2 linked regions of the Homo sapiens genome follow. The protein of the gene in region 2 binds, or shares a complex with, the protein of the main gene of each other region. Each region holds a gene or a part of one and is shown on either strand. Other genes may lie near its edges.

Region 1 (3,752 bases), on a different chromosome or scaffold from region 2:
TGCCTCTTAAAAATATTTTAAATGAATGAATAGCAGTAATGCTTTCAAGTTCCTAAAGCAATATTTCTTTTTAGTGATGCTGCTTCAAAAGTCATGGTGGAATTGCTCGGAAGTTACACAGAGGACAATGCTTCCCAGGCTCGAGTTGATGCCCACAGGTAATGTTAAACGTTACTCTGATGAGGGTTTGACAGCGATGTAGAGGTAAGCTACAATATTAAATTAAGTAACTGAAATCATGTTTGCAACTACCAGTGATCCAGAGCCATTTGATAGTGTGTATTTCCTGGTGATTCTAATGTAGATACTAAAATTCAAGGTTTGATATTGGAAGAACTGTGGATTGAATATGAAGTAGCTGCATGGCGTTTACCTGGCGGGGGGGGTATTGCTGGTATGGGGATGATGATCCCAACCCAAGAATTAGAACCTAATCTTGGGCCAATTGACCCTAATTTTAAGGTTATAGGTGGAAAGTTGATGGCTTGCCAAAAATTAACCCATTGCTAATGAGTATAAGGGCTTTTAACAGTCTTAGATCTAACTGGTAACAAGAATAGAATCAGTTTTCTAAATCTATGTAATAAGGATTATGAAACTTCTTTTTTTGGTCATTGCTTTGTGTGGACCTCTACATGATAGGAGTTGGTAAAAAGGGAAGTTGGTGGTAAAGATCCTTGACTTTGAGGTCAGGCTGCCTCCATTCACATTCTTACTCCACCTCTTAATGAGCACTTCTGAACTGCTTCATAGTTGATAAAGGGGGCAGAGTAATACTGTTTGTCTCCTAGGTTGTTGTGAGGAATAAATGAGATGTAAGGCAAGTGAAGCACTTAGTGTCTTGGCATGTGGTTCTGCTGCTGCTTACTATTTGATTACCTTGGTGCTTTCTCTCCAGCTATGTTTTTATCTACAATTAATATATTTCATTTTGTTAAAACAGATGAACCTGATAAATGTGTTGGCCTGTCTTAACCCAATCCTGTAGCTTTTTTAATGTTGTTTATATGTTTTGGACTGTTAGATATTTTGCCGAATTAAGTATATTTTATGATCTGCAAAAACTCAATGAAAAGCCAGGATTTCAAAACCCTGAGCTTACATTTTTGTTCTCTAATTAAGGTGTATTGTACGAGCATTGAAAGATCCAAATGCATTTCTTTTTGACCACCTTCTTACTTTAAAACCAGTCAAGTTTTTGGAAGGCGAGCTTATTCATGATGTAAGTAGTTTATCCTTTAATGTGAAAAATGTTCTCCTTTCCTAAATTTTACATACTGAAGCAGGACTCTTTTTCTTTGCATTAATAAAAGTGACTAATGGCAAGATATGGAAAGATTAAGAACTATGTATTCTTTTTATATCAGGAACAGACATATTTAGGACCAGCTTTTCTTCATCCACTGAGCAGAGTCCTATTCTTCCTCCCTTTCTTAATTTCTTTTTTTTTTTTGAGACTGAGTCTCACTCTGTCACCAGGCTGGAGTGCGGTGGCATGATCTTGGCTCACTGCAACCTCTGCCTCCCTGATTTAAGCAATTCTCCTGCCTCAGCTTCCAGGAGAAGTAGCTGGGATTACAGGCACATGCCATCAGGCCCAGCTAATTTTTGTATTTTTAGTAGATACAGAGTTTTGCCATGTTGGTCTGGTCTCCGACTCCTGACCCCCCTGACCCCAAATGATCTGCCCACTTCGGCCTCCCAGAGTGCTGGGATTACAGGCGTGAGCCACTGTGCCCGGCTACCTCCCTTTCTTTCATCTTCTCACTTACTCATCATTATAGACTTAGATAATACAAGTTTCTTTTTTATTACATATATATTGTTCCTAGCCCCACTTAGGAATATAAGTCTGATATTTAAAAACACATGAACATTTTTCAAATGCAAGTATAAATATATTTTGGACTGTTGTGCATCTGGACTATGCCATTAGCCATCATCTTTCAGTGTGGATAATTTAGAGCTCAGTGTATTTACTGATTATTTCATTTTAAAAGTGAGCCATGTGAAAGCAGATGGTTTGGTAATTTGATGAAACAGAATGATATTTCTGCCTTGAACAAAATGTAGGAGTCAGTATCTTTAAAATAATATTTACAATATCTTAGAATATCTTACAATAAATCTGAATTCTGTATTGATGGTATCTTTTTTGTCTCTTATCTGTATAGCTTTTAACCATTTTTGTGAGTGCTAAATTGGCATCATATGTCAAGTTTTATCAGAATAATAAAGACTTCATTGATTCACTTGGTAAGTTTTGGGGTTTATTCTTTGAGGCACAGAGGTGGGAACATGATACACTAACAGTTATGTACTATGTGTTCCAGCAAGTATGGCTGTGGCCTTATTTGTAGATTATCCTAAAAGGAGTCGTGTATGATAGAACAGCACAAAAATAGGTAGACAGTTTAAAATATTACTTAGAATGAATTGAGAATCAGAAACCAAGAAGGTGTAGGAGGTGGCATTTGTGATAGAAAGAGAATGAAACTGGGAGTATGAAAACAACTCGGGGCCCAGCGCGGTGGCTTAGAGGTATAATCCCAGCACTTTGGAGGCCGAGGCGGGCGGATCACGAGGTCAGGAGGTCGAGACCATCTTGGCTGACTAACATGGTGAAACCCTGTCTCTACTAAAAATACAAAAAATTAGCCGGGCGCGGTGGCGGGTGCCCGTAGTCCCAGCTACTTGAGAGGCTGAGGCAGGAGAATAGCTTGAACCCGGGAGATGGAGGCGGAGGTTGCAGTGAGCCAAGACTGTGCCACTGCACTCCAGCCTCGGCAACAGAGCAAGAGTCTGTCTCAAAAAAAAAAAAAAAAAAAAGAAAGAAAAGAAAACAACTTAGCACTTGTAATCCCAGCACTTTGGGAGGATGAGGTGGGTGGATCACTTGAGGTCAGGAGTTCAAGACCAGCCTGGCCAACATGGCAAAACCCCATTTCTACTAAAAATACAAAAATTAGTGGGCATGGTGGCACATACCTGTAGTGCCAACTACTCAGGAGCCTTAGGCAAGAGAACCACTTGAACCCGGGAGGCAGAGGTTGCAGTGAGTTCAGATCACACTGCTGCACTCCAGCCTGGATGACAGAGTGAGGCTCCATCTCAAAAAACAAAAAAAAAAGAGAGAGAAAATGACTTGGAACCTTTTTGTCTCATTTAAGAGCTTGCTGAACTTTAGGCCCTTCCAGCTCTTCTGTACCATGATTCTTTGAGGTAAAGTTATATCAACAATCGGGTGTTTGGAGAAGATTGAAGAAATAGTTCCATTGGTACATTTGTTTTTAAAATTTAGAGATGGAGGAGTGAGCAGAAAAGCAACTGAAAGAATTACCATTACTTTGATCATAATGGTAACTTTCAGAAATGTTTTAAGAGCTGATAAAATTTGATGATTAAAGGTACTTTATTAAGCTAAACATTATTCTTAAAATAATATTGTTTCTTTGTAGAAGACTTTATTCCTTAGATATATGGTGATTTGTATTTTTGGTCCCTTTTTTTAAGCCATAGCCACAGAATGGTAACAAATAGTTTTTTCCCCCCTACTATACTATTTTATGCTTGGATACCCCCGCCATTAACAAATTACAAAAGTATATAGTATTGCCAGTTAGATCTGAAAGATGGAATTAGAAATGGAAATGTAATTTTACATGATAGTAAGACTTTTCTAACTACGTTTGTTGAAAACAGCATAGTCTTTATTATTTTTATCTTTGAATTTTCTTGTCTAGCGTATCAGT
Region 2 (3,752 bases):
CACCGTTGCACTCCAGCCTGGGCAACAAGAGCGAAACTCCGTTTCAGAAAAATAAAATAAAAAATAAAAGTAAAATACATAAATCGGTATTAAGTCATTAAGTTTCTGTTAATTTGTTATGGTGCGAAAGAAAACTAATACAAAGTTATATAATACAGAAGTATGTATGGCGAAGAGAGCTGTCCAGGTGACTCCACTGGGATCAAAAAGGAGGGGAGCCAGCAAAGACGACATGCAAACGGAACAGGGAAACGGGTGAGACCAGAGTAACGCGGTAACACAGACGGCAAAACGACACAGGCACGACGGCCCTGAATGCTTTGGGGAGCTCACCAGGAAAAATCCAAGAAAAGGCCGCTGGCCCCAGAGCGGCAAACCTTCCAGTGTGCTCTTTCAACAGGTGATGTGGGCGGGGGGGCGGATTGGGAGGGGTGGGGTGGAAATAGAGGAGGAAAAGTGAAGGAAGCATGTTTCTTTCAAGGTGCCTCTGAAGAGTCAATTCTGAGCCAGATCTTAGAATCCATGAGTTAAAGAAATGAGGAATTGCAAAAAATGTGTGAAAAGATTGAAGGCAGTGGCTCAGTCAATGAAAGAAGAGGTCAAAAAGAAGAGCGGCCAGACTTACAGGAAAACTGCCAACCCAGATAATAAGGAGAGGAAAAAATCAGATGCTCAGGGAGCAGAAGTCAACAGGAGGCCACAATGGAACAGAGATGAAGAAAGTACTGGAAGAAGGGAGTTAACTGGTTCCTGCGTAAAAAATAAGCAGAAAAGTTCTTAACACTTAACATAGTTCTACACACACAGTCATGCTCTTTCTCAGCAAGGAACTAAGCAGAGGAAAAAACTCACAAGACAAAAAAAAACATCCAGGTAGCTCTATAAGTAACGAAAGGGGATAAGAAACAGTTTATACAACCTAGCCTGCGTAAACAGGCACTGTAGGGAATAGAGACATGGTGTCACCAGGAGGGTGATGGAGATGGCGGCTCACCCTGGAATCCCACTCATTGAGTGTCTTGATGTTGATGAAGGACACTTCCCCGTTGGCTCCAGTCATGACGCCATCGTGCTCACAACGGACAATAAGGTCAATATCATCTCCAAGCTTCCACCTGCGGTAACTGCAGCAAAAAAGAAACTCATGTGGTCACTGGGGATTCTATAGAGTGGGGCCCGTGCTCCAGTCTGGCCACAATACCCACCAGAGAGGTGACCTACCGGTACGCAACAGAGGCGATTTCATTCTTATCCATGTCGTCCTCCACAAACGGGTTTGGGTTGGGGAAGTTGTATCTTTCCTTCCCCTGCAAAAACAAAGGTGTCACAAGACAGAGCTAACTTTGTTGACAAGGCCAAGGCCAATCAGTCAGACCCAGCACCTCTGCTTAGTTGCAGCCCTGGCCAGGTTCCTGGGGCCCTTGATGGGGCTCTGAGCTCGCTGCCTGTTTTGTGCCTACTTGACCCCTCCCAACTGTTAGCACCTGATGAATTAGAACAATGACTTAGTAACCATGCTCATCTCTACTTCATTTTTTTGCCATGGCATATATTCACCATTTGATGTAAATCAATTTATTATTTATTGTTCACTGTGTTTCCTCCTCCACTATCATTAAATTCTGTAAGGGCAGGAACTTTGTTCAAAGTCAGAGAGCCTAACATCCAAGCCCAGGCATGTAACTCCCCTGCTAAAGGTGGGGACTGCGTCTGACCTGCTCAGTCCCACAACCAAGAGCCTAGCACAAAGCAGATGCTCCACAAACAGCAGCTGATTAAATAAGAATGAATCAATGCCCAGAGACTCGTTTCCTCACCATTCTCAAGCACTGCTGGGAGAAATTGTGGTTGATGTAGGTTGCCTCCATGGCCAGGTTGCGGGGTGAATTGAAGGAATTACCTTCATCTTGAGGGGGCTCATTGGCAGTCTCACTCACTGTCAGGAGGTCTGCAAAAGCGTGGCATGGTCACTCACCATGCAACAAAGAGTCACTGACAATGTGCGCAGCGCTGTGGGGAGATGTGGAGAGGCAAACAACACAAGTCCTTCCTTCAAAGAACTGCCCTCTCCTAAAGTGGGTCTCCCTGGTGTGGAACACATAAGCGGGGGAGTGGGGCAGCTGCTCCAGGATAACTCAAGATACTGTCCAACATTCAATTCAATCACACAGTAACGAAGCTGTCCCTTTTCAGTCGTTTTGGATTCCTCAAGAGAATGATTTTGCAAGCTTTTTAATAAAGACCTCAGGCTTCAGGCTCAGAATATAAACACTTTTTTTTTTGAGATGGAGTCTTGCTCTGTCACCCAGGTTGGAGTGCAGTGGTGTGTCCACGGCTCACTGCAACCTCTGCCTCCTGGGTTCAAGCGATTCTCCTGCCTCAGCCTCCTAAGTAGCTGGGATTACATGTGTCCACCACCACACCTGGCTAATTTTTGTATTTTTAGTAGAGACTGGGTTTCACCATGTTGGCCAGGCTTGGTCTCGATCTCCTGATGTCAAGTGATTCTCCGCCTCGGCCTCCCAAAGTGGCAGGATTACAGGTTGTGAGCCACCGTGTCCAGCCTGTTTTGTTAATTTTTGAGTGACATGGTTTTCCTTTATGGTGTATAAATACATATATGTATGGTATAAAAAATATATATGTATATACAGTAAGCAAACACTGAACAAGGTATGCAAGATGGCAAAAGTCGAAAAAGGGGTATTTAAATGAATAACATTTGGGCCAGGTGTGTTGGCTCACACCTCTAATCGCAGCACTTTGGGAGGCCAAGGCTGATGGATCACTTGAGGCCAGGAGTTCGAGACCAGCCTCGCCAACATGGTGAAACCGTCTCTACTAAAAATATAGAAAGTAGCCAGGCGTAATGGCACATGCCTGTAATCCCAGCTATTCGGGAGGCTGAGGCAGAAGAATCACTTGAATGTGGGAGGCAGACGCTGCAGTGAGCCAAGACTGCGCCACTGCACTCCAGCCTGGGTGACAGAGTGAGACTCTCTGTCTCAATTAAAAAAAAAAAAAAACAACAAAAAAGCAACATTTGGAAGCTTGCTATTAGGGTGCTGTGAGGACTCCAAAAGCTGAGGCCTCAAGCAGGTACTGCAGTGACAGTCTCTTCTCCTAACCTCTAAAGAGTGTGGGAGATTCAGACACTGCTGCTGTCAATTCCCTTGGGAAGACAGACCACTTTCTATCCATTCTCTAGTACCAGAGACTTGTTCTGTACCAACAAAAATACTCAATGCCTTTGAGTTGCTCCCCAGGCACGCTTCTTACCAAAGTCAGAGTTGTCTCTCTTGTCAAAGAAGAGTTTGGACCCAACTCTCTGGACGACAATATCCCAGGAATACACTGAGCGGGTACAGCTCATCAGCGTGGCCAGGATGGCATCAGTGGCAAACACATTCCCCTGAGTTTTTGCCAGCTGCAAAGAGGATCAAAGAGAGAAGATGGAAAGACACTCCCAGGTCTCACTGCCCACTCACATGGATGGGAAAGAACTCCTTTGCTGACCACATAAATCCTTAATAAGGAGGCCCCACCTCATTGACCAAAAACACTGCAGCCAGTGAGCCAGCAAGTTTCGGGTGGCAGTGGCACTGCAGCACCCTAAGCACCTGCTAGATTCCAGCCAAGTGCTTCAGATGCTTTCACCTTTGCCCCAGTGGTAGTGCTATGTACATCTACCCCTTGTTGCAGATGAGAGAACTAAGGCTCCAGAGACTAAGCCAGGAAGCGCGGCAGAACTG

The links. The genes of interacting proteins can lie anywhere in the genome.
Region 1: EIF3D (region 2) and EIF3M share a complex: the UniProt entries of both Homo sapiens proteins name them as parts of the eukaryotic translation initiation factor 3 (eIF-3) complex.

Annotation. Positions count from the first base shown.
Region 1 is NC_000011.10:32,593,792-32,597,543, forward strand, and holds part of EIF3M (eukaryotic translation initiation factor 3 subunit M), read left to right. Parts: intron 1-74; coding exon 75-158; intron 159-1,122; coding exon 1,123-1,222; intron 1,223-2,174; coding exon 2,175-2,256; intron 2,257-3,752. UniProt on the Homo sapiens protein: Component of the eukaryotic translation initiation factor 3 (eIF-3) complex, which is required for several steps in the initiation of protein synthesis.
Region 2 is NC_000022.11:36,515,484-36,519,235, forward strand, and holds part of EIF3D (eukaryotic translation initiation factor 3 subunit D), read right to left. Parts: intron 3,428-3,752; coding exon 3,280-3,427; intron 2,011-3,279; coding exon of another isoform or gene 1,949-2,010; coding exon 1,818-1,948; exon of another isoform or gene 1,817-1,817; intron 1,308-1,816; coding exon 1,222-1,307; intron 1,125-1,221; coding exon 995-1,124; intron 1-994. UniProt on the Homo sapiens protein: mRNA cap-binding component of the eukaryotic translation initiation factor 3 (eIF-3) complex, a complex required for several steps in the initiation of protein synthesis of a specialized repertoire of mRNAs.